2 separate regions of the Homo sapiens genome follow, and region 1 is linked to region 2. The links come from fine-mapping of genetic effects on gene expression. A gene starts in region 2. The other region holds a variant in brackets. All regions are shown on one strand. Distances are from middle to middle.

The links. PIP is the estimated chance that this variant, and not a neighbour inherited with it, causes the effect.
Region 1: its variant is fine-mapped to the expression of P2RY4 in sun-exposed skin (GTEx, PIP 0.95).

The regions. Positions count from the first base shown.
Region 1 is chrX:70,184,798-70,193,138 of GRCh38, reverse strand. All of the region lies in intron 1 of DGAT2L6 (diacylglycerol O-acyltransferase 2 like 6), which reads right to left. Among named protein-coding and RNA genes, the nearest start is that of DGAT2L6, 11 kb to the right of the region's middle. The variant A/G (reference allele first, on the strand shown) is at 3,097.
Region 2 is chrX:70,256,307-70,264,647 of GRCh38, reverse strand. P2RY4 (pyrimidinergic receptor P2Y4) reads left to right here and starts at 4,444. Exons shown (of 1, transcript NM_002565.4): 1 at 4,444-6,482. The coding sequence starts at 5,024. The coding sequence ends at 6,121. RefSeq lists an enhancer at 1,355-1,649.

The sequences.
Region 1 (8,341 bases), 72 kb after region 2:
GGTCTCAAACTCACCATGTTGGCCGAGCTGGTCTTGAACTACTGACCACCTAGGAAGCTGTCTGGTCCTGGGCTTTTCTTTGTTAGGAGGTTTTTGATTATCGATTAAATTTCATTTGTCATTGATCTGTTTAGATTTTCTTCCTTCATAATTTATTCTTGGTAGGTTGTATGTGTCTAGAAACATATGCATTTCTTCTAGGTTATCCAATTTGTTGGCATATGATTGTTCATGGTAGTCTTTTATGACCTTTATATTTCTGTGTCATCAGGTGTAATGTCTTCTCTTTTATTTCTGATTTTATTTATTTGATATTGTGTCTCTTTTTTCCTTGGTTAGTTTAGCTAAGGGTTTGTTACTTTTGTTTATCTTAGGGTTATTTTATTCTTTTTTTTCTAGTTTCATGGGATGTAAAGTTAGGTTATTGATTTGTGACATTCCTTTTTTCTTTATGTAGGTATTTATCATGATAAACTTTCCCCTTAGAACTGTTTTTGCTGCATTCTATAAGTTTTGGTATGATGTGTTTCCATTTTCATTTGCCTCAAGATACTTTTTGATTTCCACTTTTAACTCTAACATAAGTGACGAAAGTACTAAAAATAACTACAGCTACAATAATTTGTTAATGGATACATGATATAAAAAGATATAAAGTTAAAAGTGATTTACACACTACCATTGCAGTATTCTGAGTATTTTGGATTTGATGATATATTTACCTTTACCAGTGAGTTTCATATTTTTATATGTTTTAATGTTGTTATTTAGTATCCTTTCATTTCAACTTAAACACCTTTCTTTAGCATTTCTTGTAAGGTAGGTCTAGTCGTGATGAAATCCTTTATCTTTTATTTGTCTGGAAATGTCTTTTTTTCTTGTTGTTAGAGATGGGGTCTCATTTTGTCACCTATGCTGAAGTGCAGTGGCATGCTCATAGCTCACTGAAGTTTGAACTCCTGGGCTCAAGCGATCTTCTTGCCTTAGCTTCCCAAGTAGCTGGAAGTCCAAGTAGCTGGACATCACCATGCCTGGGTAATTTTATTATTTTTATTTTTGTAGAGACAGAGTCTCACTATGTTGCCCCAGCTGGTCTCAAACTGGCCTCAAGCAATCCTCCCACCTCAGCCTCCCAACATGCTGGGATTACAGACATGAGCCACCATGCCTGGCTTTGAGAATGTCTTTATTGTTCCTTCATTTATGAATGACCACTTTGCTGGTTATAGTATTCTTCATTGGCAGTTTTTTCATCTTTTAGCACTTTGAATGTATCATCCCACTCCCTCCTGGCCTGCAAGATTTCTGCTGAGAAGTTTGCTGATGAGGTTCCCTTGTATGTGGTGAGACTCTTTTCTCTTAATGCTTTCAATATTCTCTGTTGTCTTTGACTTTTGACAATTTGATTATAATGTGCTTCAGGATATTCTTCTTTGAGTTGATCTTGCTTGGGATCCTCTGAGCTTCATGAATCTTGATGTCCATTTCTTTCCTAGGATTTGTGAAGTTTCCAACCATTATTTCTTGAAATAATCTTTCTGTTTCTTTCTCTCTCTTTTTCTTCTCCTAAATTATGGGACACCCATAATTAGTAGATTCATTTGCTTATTGTGTCCCATAGGTTCCTTATGCTTTCTTCACTCATTTTCATTTTTTTTCTTTTTTTGTTTCTCTAATTGGCTAATTTCAAATTACCTATCTTTGTGTTACCCATTTCTTTCTTCTGCATGATCAAGTCTGCTATTGAAACTCTTTCTTTTAGTTTTCAGTTCTGTCATTGTATACATCAGCTCCAGGATTTCTGTTTGGGTCCTTTTTGTGGTTTTTATTTCTTTATTAAACTTCTCATCTCATTTATGTGTTGTTTTTCTGATTTTGTTCAGTTGTCTGTGTTCTCTTACAACTCACTGCACTTCAGGATGATTATCTTGAATTCTTCTTCAAGCCTTTAATAGATCTCCATTTATTTGGGCTGTTACTGGAATTATACTAGTTTTCTTCCATGATGTCATGTTTGCTGGATTATTTGTTATTTGTATAGCCTTTCACTGGTTTCTGTGCATTTGAAGGAGCAAATCAGTCTTTATAGAGTGATTTCAGCAGGTTTATGGGGGGGCTTCTGCTAGGTCACTGGGTGGGTCCCTGGGCAGGCAGGACAGGCCCGGGACTGTGGCTGAGAAGGGCTAGAACCAAGTCATAGAACTGCCTCAAGGTCTATAGCCAAGACTGAGGCCTGCGGGCCTGCCTCCATGGGCATGGACAGGTGTGCCTCCTGCCAGGTTCCTGGGTGGACAGGACTGCCCTGTACAGTTGAATGGAGCTGGACCCAAGTTACAGGGCTGTTTCAGGATCTGCTGTGATACCAAGGTTAGCAAGCTTGCTTCCTATGGCACAGACAGGCATGACTCCCAGCAAGCCCCTGGGAAGGCATAATTGCTCCCATACCACAGCAGAGTGTGACCAGAGCTGAGTTATAAGGCTGCTTCAGGGTATACTGCTGGGACCAAGATTGGCAGTCCTGTAACTTGAGGCACAGATGGTTGTGACTCCTCCTGGATGCCTTGGAAGATGATTTTGGTGGCAGAATCATGACCAAATGGCATTGTAGCTGAGTTTACAGGGGGATGAGGCTATTTCCAGGTCTGTAACCTTCACCACAGTCAACAAGCCTGGGTGTGGGCCTGCCCTCTCAAAACAGCCTTCCTTGGTGTTGGACTCTACTAGAGTTTTGCAACATCCTACCTGGGTCCAAAATTCCCACAAAGGTACTTTGGTCCATGGATGGCTGCCAGATTCTTGTTGCTCTGGAGAGATGTGATGGACTTCCCATTCACCATCTTGTTGATGTCATACTTGAGTTAATTTTTATAGAGCCTGAAGTTTGGGTCAAGATTCATTTTGCCACATATGGACATCAAATTTTCCTACACCGTTCCTTGAAAAGACTTATTCATCCTCCATGGAATTGCTTTTTCATCTTTGTCAAAAATCAATTGACCATATTCATGTGTTTATTTCTTGACTCTTTTCTGTTCTGTGGATCAATATATCTATTCCTTCACAAATACATCACTGTCTTGATTGCTCTAGTCTTAT[A/G]CTAAGTCTCAAAATCAGATGGTATAATTCCTTTAACTTTATTCGTTCTCAAAATTGTTTTAATTATTTGTAGTTTCTTTGTTTTTCTATATAAATTTTTGAATCAGCTTGTTTATTGCTACAAAAACTCTTGATGGAGGTTTTTTAATTAAACTTTTTATTTTGAAAAAACAAGATTATTTTAATAAAGTCTTGTTTAATCTTCATCTACATCTACCCATTGTCAACATTTTACGTTTGATTTATCTTTAAATGTAAAAATGTAAGTATATACATATATGTTTGTATTTGAGAATACATCACAGAGATTACAACCTTTTGCTTCTAAATAGTTTTTAGCGTGTATTTTGCAAGAAAAACGATATTCTCTTCCCTTATAGCACCCACAATGCTATTACCAAATTTGGGAAATTTAATATTTATGCGAAACTATTACCTAATATAGCCTGACTGTGATTTTTACTTGAATTGCATTATACTTATAGATCAATCTGGGGAGAATTGGCATCTTTACTGTGTTGAATCTTCCAATCTGTGAACATGGTATGTCTCTAATTATTTAGATCTTTTATTTTATTCATCAGCATTTTACAGTTTTTAGCCTATGAATCCTGTATGGTTTACTAGATTTATTCCCAAACATTTTATTTTTGAAGGTATTTAAATGGTATTTTTTTTAAAATTTCTATTTTCAATTCTTCTCTGCTAGTATATAGAAATGTGATTAATTTTTATGCATGATCTTGTATCCTGTGACTGGCTAATCTCATTTGTTAGTGCTTGGAGGTTTTTGTTTTATTTAAAGTAGAGTCCTTGGGATTTTCCATACATACTATCATGTCATCTACAAGTAAGGACAGTTTTATTTCTCTTTTTTTCCGATCTGTATGCATTTATTTCTTTTTTTCTTTTTGCCATATTGCATTTGCTAGGGCTTTTAGCATACCGTTGAATACAAGTGGTGAGAGTGGACATCCTTGCTTTGTTTCTAATCTTAGGGAGAAAGCATTTCATCTTTCATGATCAAGTGTGATGTTAACTGTAGGGTTTTTTTTTTTTTTTTTTTGTAGATGCCCTTTATCAGGTTGAGGAAGTTCCCTTCTATTCCTAGTTTGCTGAGAGATTTTATCATGATTACATGTTGAAGTTTGTCAATTGATATGATTACATGGGGTTTTTTCATGCTTAGATGGTTAGTATGGTAGTTTACATTGATTTATTTTCAAATATTTACACTTGCCTTCCTGGATAAAGGCCACTTGGTCATGGTGCATTACTCTTTGTAATGTATTGCTGGATTCAATTTGTTAATATTTTGTTGCTTTTTTCATTTATATATATGAGGGATCTTAGTCTGTAGTTTTCTTTTCCTTTTTTGTACTATCTTTGTCTGATTTTGGTATCAGGATGTGGCCTCGTAAATGAGTTGGGAAATGTTCCTTTCTCTTAAGCTTTCTTGCAGAGATTGCATAGAATTCGTGATATTTTTTCTGTAAAATGTTTGTAGAATTTGCTGTTGAAACCATCTGGGTCTGAAAATCTCTTTTTGGAAGGTTTCTAACCTTCTAAAATTAAGATTATAGTGATGGGTTATTTATTTCATGTTAGGTGAGTTTTGATTGATTGTAGTTGTCAAGGAGGTCTCCAAATATAATTGCTAATTTGTCTATTTTTCTTTTCAGCACCATCAGTTTTTGCATCATATATTTTGCAGTTCTATCATTTGATGCATGCACATTTAGGATAGTTGTTTTCTTGGTGAATCAGCCCATTTATCATTACATAATGTCACTCTTTATCCCTGATCCTGACTTTAAAAAAAGTTAAACCTGTACAGCCTCAAATTGCTAATGATTACTAGCTTAAGTTAAAAATGGTACCAATATGACCTAAGTGGGTCCTTTCTTCAAATCATCTCTGATTCCTCTCACTTGCTCACTTAGCCCATAGATTAATAGCCAATATCTATTGTACACTTATCATGTAAAACTGTTTCACATGGCATAGTTTATTTAATCTTCATAAAGACCCCATGAGAACAGTAATCATTATCATTTTGTGGATGAGGACCTGAGGTTCAGAGTGATTACATTGTTCCAAGATTAGACAGCTAGCAGGTGAGTGGCCAGGGCTGAAAACCAAGATTGTCTTACCCCAGAGACTGTACCCTTAACCACTAAGCTCTAGCTGTTACTTCCCTTTAGTCATTTACCAATTCTTGCCAGTTCTGCCTTCCAGATATCTTTCAAATTATTCTATTTCCCACCTCCATGCTACCACTTGGTCAAAGCCACCATTATCTCTCACCTGGATGACTACCAGTGTCTTCTAAATAGGCTGCCTGCTTCCATTTGAGCCATGATGCAGCCAGTGCATTAAATGCAAGTCTGTCTCTATCAATCTATAGCATGTAGCCAAGGACATGGCTGGTTTATCAAAGAGGCATATCTGTGGCTTTATGATTACTTACTGTATCTAAGTTAACTATAAATATAAGAACCTGTGGGAGTATATGGTAATTTAACAATTCAACAATAAATATGGTTTCCTGTGGCCCTTAGGATCAAGTCCAGTCTCCTAACCCTGGCTTAGAAGGGTTAGGAGATCTTGGTGATCTAGTCTCTGGCCACCACCTTGTTCTTTGCATTCCACCATGCTATTTTTTTCAGCTCCTTCAAGTGCTCTCTAGCTTCAGGGCTTCTCTGCCTGCGGTCCCCTTTGCCTGGAAAACTCTCTCTTCAGCTCTGTGTCTGGCTAGTTCCTATTCATCTTTCAGGCCTCAAGATAAATGTCATAGGTTCAATATTTTTAGGCCATCTTTGACTTCTTTCCCTTTCCAAACAAACAAACAAACAAACAAACAAACAAACAAAAAACTTCTCCTATCCGTCTTCCTGCCTCTGTCCCCATTGCTACTGCTATGGTCCAGGACTTGATTTTTTTCTAGTCTGGACTGCAGCCTTTTGTCTGCCCTTCAGCTATGGGTTTCTTCCCCTCCAATCCATTTCCCACACCTCTGCCAGAAATTTTTAAAAAGCACAATCACATAATGTTGTTTGCTTCCTCCAAAACCATCAATATTTTCCAACTGCTGACAGAATAAAGTCTGAACACATTGGCTTGGTATTCAAGGCCCTCACTGGCCTAGCCCCACGTGTCTTCCTAGCCTCATCTCTCAGTAGCCGTACTCACATTCCTTATGCTGCAGCCTAGTATTTCTCAAAGTGTTTCGTAGCCTAGTGTTCCCATGCCCTGTAGGGACATTAGATGATCCAAGGTGGTGTATGGATAAAAAGTTATTTTAATGCATAGAGAATAAAAGCAAATTCATGGTAGCGATATAAAATTTCCTGTTAAAATACATTAATTTAGGCTACAGAGATGACTTAATTTGAAGGAAAAGTATGTTAAGTAATAATAGCATAGGTGGTACACAGCTGTGGAAAGAGCCAGAAGATGGGACACAAATGGCTAAAGTATGGGAAACGGGCCCGACCACCTTTGTCTACTTCCCATTCCCTCAACTCACCATGTAATTCACATTTCTGTGCCTTTGATGATACTGTTCCCTTATTTTTATTACTCTCTTTCCAACTTTCTGCTTATCAAAATTCTCTCAGGCTTTATGGTTTAGCTCAAATGACACTTCCTTGTGATATCTTTGCTCATCTCCCGGTCAGAATTGAGGACTCCCTCTTCTGCACACTCCCAAGACATTACTCGTGCTTCTTTCTGGTTCTGGTTCATTTTGTTTGATGGTGTAATTAGTACCTCATATGTCTGTCTCTCTCCCTATCAGACAGTAAGTTTGGCCTTTAGCACAGTGCCAAACACAGAGAGATAGCTTATGATAAATGTTCATTACATTGAATTATAGTAAAGGAAGAAGTTCAATTTCACAATTCTCCAAGTTGCAGGTGAAAGTTAATAGGAAGAGAAACCGTATTCCAAACAAGGAAAGGCTATCTGAAGTTATAAGGTGTGCATGTGTGTGTAAGGATATAGGCAACGAGTTATTTCCAGTGTAAGGTGAAAACCTATAATTCTTATGGGTGAAAACATTATGTTTCATGTTTCGGGGCAATGACCTAAATCTGAATGTTGGCAATGCTTGCCTAATCTAGTCAGTTGGCTCAATGCCTTCAGAAATTTAAAAAAAAAAAACAAAAAAACAAAACAAAAAAAAAACAAAAGTAGTTTGTCAAAGAGGAATTTCTGTGGCTTTGTGATTACTTGTTGGATCCAAATAAACTATAAATATAAGAACTTGTAGGAGTGACAGGTAATTTAATAATTCAGTAAACATTGATGAGCCTACCTCATATGAAATCTCTATGTTAAAAGCCATGGGGACAGGGTTGGGAACTGGAAAGGGGAGGGTGAAAGGAGTAAATATGGAAATGATGAAAATAATGCAAGCATGGTCCTTGATACCATGTATTGACCATTTGTTGTGAAACAGCACTCTGTTCAGCACTTAATGTATATTATCTCATTTAATGTTCTTGCAGTCCTCATAGGTGGATAATTTTATTATCTCGTTTTACAGATGAAGAAACTAAGAATCAGAGAGATCATGTATCTTTACTCCAAGCTGTAGGAAAAAAAGTAGATAGCATTCATTATGTGCCAATAACTATTTTAAGTACCTCATGTGTATTAACTCACATTAATACGTGTGGAAAACAAAATTCCTGTCTTGGAGAAGCTCTGGGTTTCTTGTGAAAGATAAGGTTCAAAGTTGAATTTTGGAGGAAAGGTAGGATTTTTGTCAGATGGATTGGTAGAGGAAGGGTCCTCCATGCACAAAGAAGAGCCTGAACAAAGTCCAGGAGATGGGAGAGTCCAAGGCCTGGGAGTAACATCATTACCTGCAAAAACACAGGCAGCCTAAGGAAGCCGTGGTACAGGAGATGAAGCTGGGAAGGAAACTGGAGAGATTAGGCCTGATGCTGAAGGAAATGAATAGCCAGTAAAGGTTAGTAAGCAGAGAGCAGAAGAGTAGCATGATCGTGTCTGTTTCAGGAAGATAATCTGGAATAACTGTGAGAGCAAGAGAAACTATAGGCAAAGAGATCAGCTAAGAGTTTTGGCATTCAGATGAAAGCCAATGGGAACCTGAAATAGGCTACTATTTCACATACCAATTTGAAAGTCACCAAGGAGGTAGAATTTTTCAGCCCAACGCAGCTGAGTTGATGCTGGGGTGATGGAAGGGGATTAATGAAAGATGCCGTGATGGGGT
Region 2 (8,341 bases):
ATAACGACAATGAGGGCACTCTGCTGGGTTCCTTACATGCATTGCTTCATTGTCTTCTCACAACAAGCTAGGTGCTAGCATCCTCATTCTACATATGAGGAAATGGAGGTTCAGAAAGACTTATCCATAGTCATAGCCGGCAGGCGATGGAGCCAGAGTTCAACCCTAGGTCTGTCTGACTCCAAGCCTGCATTTTTTCCACTATATCACTTACCTTCCCTCCCTCATTTTCTTCCCTCTCCCTCCCTTCCTACCTTTATTCCTCCTTTCTCCCCTCCCTCCCTCCTTCCCTCCTTCTCTCCCTTCCTTCGTTCCTTTCCTCCTAACTCAGATAAAGAGATTAGAAATCATGCCTCTTCCCCCTTTCCTTCTTAAAGCCCCAAGGAAACAGCAAACCTTGCAAAGAAACTGTCATCAAGACAATTACGAATATTAGATGTGAAGGGCCAGGAGGGAGAGGACTGGAACAAACTGGAGGAGTAGGGCAATGGAAGGGTGTCAGCAATAATGGTATTTGTACATCTTATTTATCTCTGTCAGGGAAAAAATAGTAAACTTTTCCTGCATACTAAATTCCAGACATCAATGAGATACCCAAGTGTGTGTGTCCTATAGCAAACAACATATATAGGGCTTAGATTATAGATGTGGGAACCATTCAGTTCAACAAATTATAATTAAGTCATTCATTCACTCAACAACTATTATTGAACATGTACTATGTGGAAGGTACTTGTTTTCTTAACTCTGAATTGGAAGGCATTTTTTGGGGGACAGCAGAGAATATAATTTGAAAGGAAATATCTAGAACATATGTTATAATAACTTTACCTGGAAGGCTATGGGAAAGACAGAGGTAAAATGAGGTACATGTTCTCAAGGAGCTCTGGTTCTGGTATGGGGGTGGGAGGATCAGGAGGAGATGGCCAAAAACACAAATGAGTATAATTCTAGGCTGCCTGTGGTATGTGCCATCTCTGTAGAAATCAAATGTGATAAGAGTGTGAGAGAAGGAGAGATGCATTTTGATTAGAGAGAGATCTGTATGCTGGAGTCTCTTGGCCATTACAATTTTTGATAACCTCTGAGTCATAGTTGAAATCATGAGAGTGGATGTTCCAAGAGAGAAGGGGAAGAGAGGGTGGGGGTAGGGGGAGAGAGATGGTGGAGAGGGAGAGAGAGGAGAGGAGAGGAGAGGAGAGAGGAGAGGAGAGGATCTTTGGGGGAAGGCTCACATGTTGGGGAAGTAGGGGAAAAAAGAGCCAGGGAAGGGGCCAGAAGGAACATCCAGAGGAAGAGGAGAACCGGAGTAAAGCAAAGTCACAGGAACCAAAGTAAAGAAGAGTTTCACAGAAGAGAGTGAGGCTGATCTGCTGCATTCCGTTCCTCTTGGCCCTGGGTGAGGACAGTAAAAGCCAGGCAGGTGTGCCGGTTGGGGAGGGTTGGGAGAGGTCTTTTCCTGAAATAGCCACTGGGCGGCAGTGGTGGCAGCAGCAGCAGCTGCAGCTGTGTCGGGACATGCAGAAACGTAGCAGAGCTAAGTCAGGAGAAATGTAGCAGAGGTAAACCAGCCTGAAGCAGTAGGAGCAGGAAGCTGGCTCAGGCTGGGGCTTCTCTAGTGTAGTGCTTCTCCTTGGGTGTACACCAAACTTCAAAACACGCTTGTCCACCTCTGCAGAGGCCAGGTTCATTCCTGGGAGCAAAGCAGTAACAAAAAACACCTTCTAAACTTGCAGCATTTTATGGTTCACAAAGTGCTCCACACCTGTTAACCAATTCAATATTCAGGAAACCCTAAAAGATTGGTATTATTATTATTCCCATTTCACTGGTGAAGAATGGAAGTTACAAAGAGGCGCCCAGGCTCACATAACTAATAAGTGGAAGAGCAAGGATTTAAACACCAGCCCGTCTGGCTTCAAAAACTTGGGCCTCTTATGTAATGTCACAGTAGTCAGCTGTCCAGGACTCAGGTTATGACTGTGTCCTCCACTGCTACCTTTTATTCCACCCTTTACTCTGCCACAGGGCAAGGATCTTCAGTTTCCCCATCCAGGTTTCTGGGCTTTCCGAGAGATCTAGATTCTAGATTCTAGAAGTCCGCCTCCTCCTCTCACTCCCAGGATCCAGCTGGGTGACATTCTCAGGACCTGAGGATCAAGTAAGTTCAGAGTCCCCATTGCTTCTCAGCTCCATGCAGAGTGGATTCTGCTCCAGCCTGCTCACCCCTCCCCAAAGGCACTGCTTACCTCATCCTCAGAGTCCTCCAGACCGGGTTTGCCTCTAGTGCCTAAGATATACTTACGGAGGCTTAGTTGGCTTCAGGAGCCCCAGATCCTGAGCTGCTGGCAATTCCCTACACCAGGCTCTCAAACATCTAGGCTTGCTCTCTGCACCTTCTCCACTATATTCAGACCAAGTCTCTGGGAGTGATCAAGAGAGACGAGGGGTACTGTATAGAAAGGGGTAGAGTCTGTATGGGAAATGTATTGGCTGGTATCCTTAAGGAGGCATGAACTGTCTCCTGGCCATCCCCTCTTACATGTATAATAGGCATCTCAAAATTTACAGGCTGAAAAGTGAACTCCCAATCTTTCCCCTAAACCCACTCCTGTCTCTGTCAACAGTAACTCTATTCTTCCAGTTGCTCAGGCCGGACATTTTGGAGTAATTTTTGACTCTTCTTTCTCTTATACCCCACATCAGTAAATCTTGCTGTCCCTACTTAAAAAAGTCTATCCAGAATTTGACCACTTCTCATCATCTCCACCACTGTGATCCAAGCTACCATCATCTCTATCAGCAATAGCCTCTTGACTGGTCTTCCCCCTGTACCTCCAGCCCTGCAGTCTATTCTCAATATAGAGCTGGCCAGTGAGCCTTCTAAAATGTAAGTCAGATGACACCTCTCTTCTCTAAACCCTAAGTGCCTTCCCGTTCACCAAAGAGTCCTTTACAATGGCCTCCAAGGACCTTCATGATCTGGTCCCTGCCAAACTCTCTGACCTCATTTTTTACTTTTCCCCTTCTCACAACACCTGGCCTTTATTCAAAAGTCACCCTTAATATTTATTTATTTACTTATAGACAGGGTCTTGCTTTGTCATTCAGGCTGGAGTGCAGAGGTCTGACCATAGTTCACTGCAACCTCAAACTGCTGGGCTCAAGTGATCCTCCTATCTCCGACTCCCAAAGCACTGGGATTACAGGTGTGAGCCACTGTGCCTGGTTTCATTCCTAATATTTAAAACAACAACCCTCTCTATTACCCTTTTCCTTCCCTCTTTATTACCCTTTTCCTTCCCTCTTTAATTTTTCTCCATAATGATGATCACAATCTACATATTTTACTTATTAATTTTATTATCCCCCAGTAGTATGTAAGCACCATTAGGGTGGGAGTTTTTATCTATTTTGTCCACTCCTAAGGAACTACCAGTAACTAGAACTGGACCAGGCAAAAGTAGGCTCTCAGTAAATATTCGTGGTTTTAAAAAAATTATTTATATTTGAGACAGGGTCTCACTTTGTCACCCAGATTGGAGTGCAGTGGCGCGATCACAGCTCACTGCAGCCTCAACATCCCAGGTTCAAGCACTCCTCCTGCCTCAGCCCCCCATGTAGCTGGGACATCAGGTGCATGCCACCACGCCCGACTAATTTTTTGTAGAGACAGGGTTTTGCCACGTTGTCCAGGCTTGTCTTGAACTCCTGAGCTCCAGCGATCTGCCTGCCTCTGTCTGCCATAAATATTTGTTGATTCTTTCCTGGATCATAGCCAGTGGCTTAGAGAGGCAACTTAAGCATAGCAATTAAGTTATGGATGCTAGAGCCTGATCCAAAGGCAGGCCTGTCTTGGTTCAAATCTTGACTCTACCACTAACTAGCAAGACACCTAAACTTTCTGTGCCTTCATTTTTTCATCAGCAAAGCAGAGACAATAATAGTATCTAGCTCATAGAGAGCCTATGGGGTCATTAATAAGTATAAAGCACTTAGAAAAATGCCTGTCACATAGTAAGTGCTATATAAGCATTCTTTGTAATTATATGCATATGAGATTTATATTAAATATCAGTAGTTTAGATTTTCTAAAATCTTTCAATGTGTTGTCTTGCACTTGCCCATGTGAAAATTCGTTTCCCATGTTTCTGCTCACTTACACAGGCTTGTATGATCCCCCTGTAATCTATCTCCAGGGACCTGGCTCTTCATCAGTAAACTTGGATGTTTCCTCGTGTTCTCCCTCCTGCAGTCATTTCAAAGCTGTTAAATAGTAATCTCGCTGGGCCCCAGTTTCCCAATCTGTACAATGAGTGGGTTGGACTAGGTCATCGTAAAGGGCCTTTCTAACTCTTTTAATCTCCCAGGTGGGAGGAGGGACAGGCCCCACCTCCAACTCCACCTCCTTGGATATGCCCTCTGGCTGCCAAGGGGAAGGGTGACAGAGTCAGCTGAGCTCAGCTTCAAGGGGACCAGGTAGGAGATGTGCCAACGTTCTTGGGCAAGGGTGGCAATGGGGCTCCTGGGCTGTAGGCAGGCAGTGGGGAAGGTGTCATAGGTAAATGTCATCTGGAGACACTGTGACCAGGGCACTAGGAGAGGCGAAGGCACTGTGGGGAGAGACACTCCTCTTCCAGGGATATAGCTGTGATGACGAGTCAGAAGACACTTTGGGTCTGGGTATCTTCCCACTTTGGATAGTGCTGGGAGGCCTCCACCCTCTTCAGCCAGCCAGGCTCTTAGGGACAGAGTGAGCTGCAGAGTGAGTACAACCCAAATACACGGGCTGCCTGCCTGAGCCCCAGCACTGCCTGCTGCCCACCACTTCCCAAGCTGGACCAAGGGAGCTTGGGTAGGGGCCAGGCTAGCCTGAGTGCACCCAGATGCGCTTCTGTCAGCTCTCCCTAGTGCTTCAACCACTGCTCTCCCTGCTCTACTTTTTTTGCTCCAGCTCAGGGATGGGGGTGGGCAGGGAAATCCTGCCACCCTCACTTCTCCCCTTCCCATCTCCAGGGGGGCCATGGCCAGTACAGAGTCCTCCCTGTTGAGATCCCTAGGCCTCAGCCCAGGTCCTGGCAGCAGTGAGGTGGAGCTGGACTGTTGGTTTGATGAGGATTTCAAGTTCATCCTGCTGCCTGTGAGCTATGCAGTTGTCTTTGTGCTGGGCTTGGGCCTTAACGCCCCAACCCTATGGCTCTTCATCTTCCGCCTCCGACCCTGGGATGCAACGGCCACCTACATGTTCCACCTGGCATTGTCAGACACCTTGTATGTGCTGTCGCTGCCCACCCTCATCTACTATTATGCAGCCCACAACCACTGGCCCTTTGGCACTGAGATCTGCAAGTTCGTCCGCTTTCTTTTCTATTGGAACCTCTACTGCAGTGTCCTTTTCCTCACCTGCATCAGCGTGCACCGCTACCTGGGCATCTGCCACCCACTTCGGGCACTACGCTGGGGCCGCCCTCGCCTCGCAGGCCTTCTCTGCCTGGCAGTTTGGTTGGTCGTAGCCGGCTGCCTCGTGCCCAACCTGTTCTTTGTCACAACCAGCAACAAAGGGACCACCGTCCTGTGCCATGACACCACTCGGCCTGAAGAGTTTGACCACTATGTGCACTTCAGCTCGGCGGTCATGGGGCTGCTCTTTGGCGTGCCCTGCCTGGTCACTCTTGTTTGCTATGGACTCATGGCTCGTCGCCTGTATCAGCCCTTGCCAGGCTCTGCACAGTCGTCTTCTCGCCTCCGCTCTCTCCGCACCATAGCTGTGGTGCTGACTGTCTTTGCTGTCTGCTTCGTGCCTTTCCACATCACCCGCACCATTTACTACCTGGCCAGGCTGTTGGAAGCTGACTGCCGAGTACTGAACATTGTCAACGTGGTCTATAAAGTGACTCGGCCCCTGGCCAGTGCCAACAGCTGCCTGGATCCTGTGCTCTACTTGCTCACTGGGGACAAATATCGACGTCAGCTCCGTCAGCTCTGTGGTGGTGGCAAGCCCCAGCCCCGCACGGCTGCCTCTTCCCTGGCACTAGTGTCCCTGCCTGAGGATAGCAGCTGCAGGTGGGCGGCCACCCCCCAGGACAGTAGCTGCTCTACTCCTAGGGCAGATAGATTGTAACACGGGAAGCCGGGAAGTGAGAGAAAAGGGGATGAGTGCAGGGCAGAGGTGAGGGAACCCAATAGTGATACCTGGTAAGGTGCTTCTTCCTCTTTTCCAGGCTCTGGAGAGAAGCCCTCACCCTGAGGGTTGCAGGGAGGCAGGGATATCATGGGTGACCTCATCTCTCATAACCCCTTCAGTTGCCGACTCTTTTTAGCCAATGCCAATCTTCTACTCCTTTCTCGTTGTTTCTGTTCCTTCCTGGGGCCATTGGTCCTACAATCTTCCTGAAAATCTTCCCCAGTCCTCTTTCCCTGTCCCATTTCCCCCACAGCCTCCTATAGCATGTGTTTCTCTACCCAGACCAGAGCATTCAGCTGAAGGGGTGGATCAGGCAGAGTCATCTCAGGATTGGCCTGACGTATCTGATGGTGATAACCAGAATCAGGAAGTGGAGGCAACTTCCATATCACAGATGCCGAGGATGTGCCATATGTAGCACCCACACTGACTTCCTGGTTCTCTCTCAAAGACAGCATAGTCTTGCTTACCAAGATGCTGGAATAGGGTGTGATCCCAGGGAGCCTGCATGCCAGGGTCCCCGCATGTAGCTGGGGGCCTGACACTGTTGAACTGGTGTGCAGCATGAATTAAAGTCCTGTGATAGGGTGGGGACCTTAGCTGATAACAGCCTTTGGGACAGGAATGGGACTGGACCTTCTTTATGATGTTTGCTGAGAACATGTATATGACAGCTCTCCTGTACTTAACAAAAGGACAAGTGGATGGCTCAGACTGAGGGGGTGGAGCTCTCACGTCTATGGCTGTAAGTTCTAGCATTGAGGAGTAGAGCAGATTTGTGCAGAGGAAGGTGGTGACAAGAATTGACGCCCAGAGCTAGTGTTTCACTGATCTCTCCACTTTCTCTAGGTCCTGCCCCAAATAAATGATAAATCTGTCACCAGCTCTTTCAGATCAGGCTTCAGGACTTTGAGGCCAGGGTGGAGCACTAGGACTGGGAAGGTTCTTTTTAAAGTTTCCCACCCATTCATTGCTTCTCTCTTCCAGTGCCATCTTAGCACTTACAGGCTTATTGGATCAAGTTGCAGAGGGGAGGGGGGTGCATTGGAAATTGAGAAGCTAACCCCTAAGCCTTGGGAAGTAAGAATTTCTTGGCAGGCATTCTTGAGAAGGGTGGGCTCACACTTACAGGCCTTCTCCCTCTGAAATCACCTTCCAGCCTGTTGGTCTCCTGAGTCAGACCCCAGCCTTGCCTTTCTTTTTTTCCCACCCTTGCTAACCTGTCTCTGATCTCTTACTTATCTAATGATACTAACTCTTATTGGCTTCTAAGCGTCTCTCTCTGTAGAGTAGGGCTGGGGCTGGACTGAAGGAAAAAAAAATGACTTCAGTTCCCCTGAATTTCCCTTTTTGTTTTTTGAAAGGCTCCCACTTTCTCCCTAGATATCCAGGACCTTCTTGCTATGCAGGACTCCTGCCATTAGGAGTAAATGAACCGGCTTTTTTCTCCTCTTCTTACTAGTTCTCCCAGTCTCACAGCCACTGTTGCGTACACTGTTCCTCATCTGCACTCTCTTCCTTTTATTCCTATGACCATGGCCTCTTTGCCCATCACCTCCCCTAACCTGCTGTCCCCACCCAGTAAAGCTGCTCTTTCCATCCCAACTGACTCAGCCTCCTCCATTTCCTCAGTCTATTTAACTCCCATATGCTTAATCGAGATGAACTTTCTGGTCTGTTACTTTAGGGCTGTCTTCCCTTGCACTTTAGCTTTAAACACCTTGACTTTCACCTTAGGCCAATCTCCTTTCTTCTAGGACTGGAGGAAATTGCAGATGAAGCCAGAGAACAAGGCTGGCTTGACCCACTAAGACTTCACATCCTGGAACTTTGCCTAAGCTCTCATTCCTCTTAGCCTGGTGTGTTCCTAGTGAACATTCCACAGCAGCTGTTTCCTGTCTTTTTCACCTCCACAAGTCCCCAAATTCATCTCCTTCTTGTGATCTCTTAAGAGAGTTACCTTGCCTCCTGCGAAACTGAGAAGCTCTAACGCTTCAACTTCCAGTTATCATTCACGATAACTACTCTATATTTGCCCTGTCTTTCTCCCTTTCTTCCCTGAAGTTCCAGAATAAGAGGTGGTCCCCTTTCTTATTCCTTTGTTTACCTCTCTTCATTATTTCAAGTCTCTTCCATCACCCATTTTATCCCATCTTA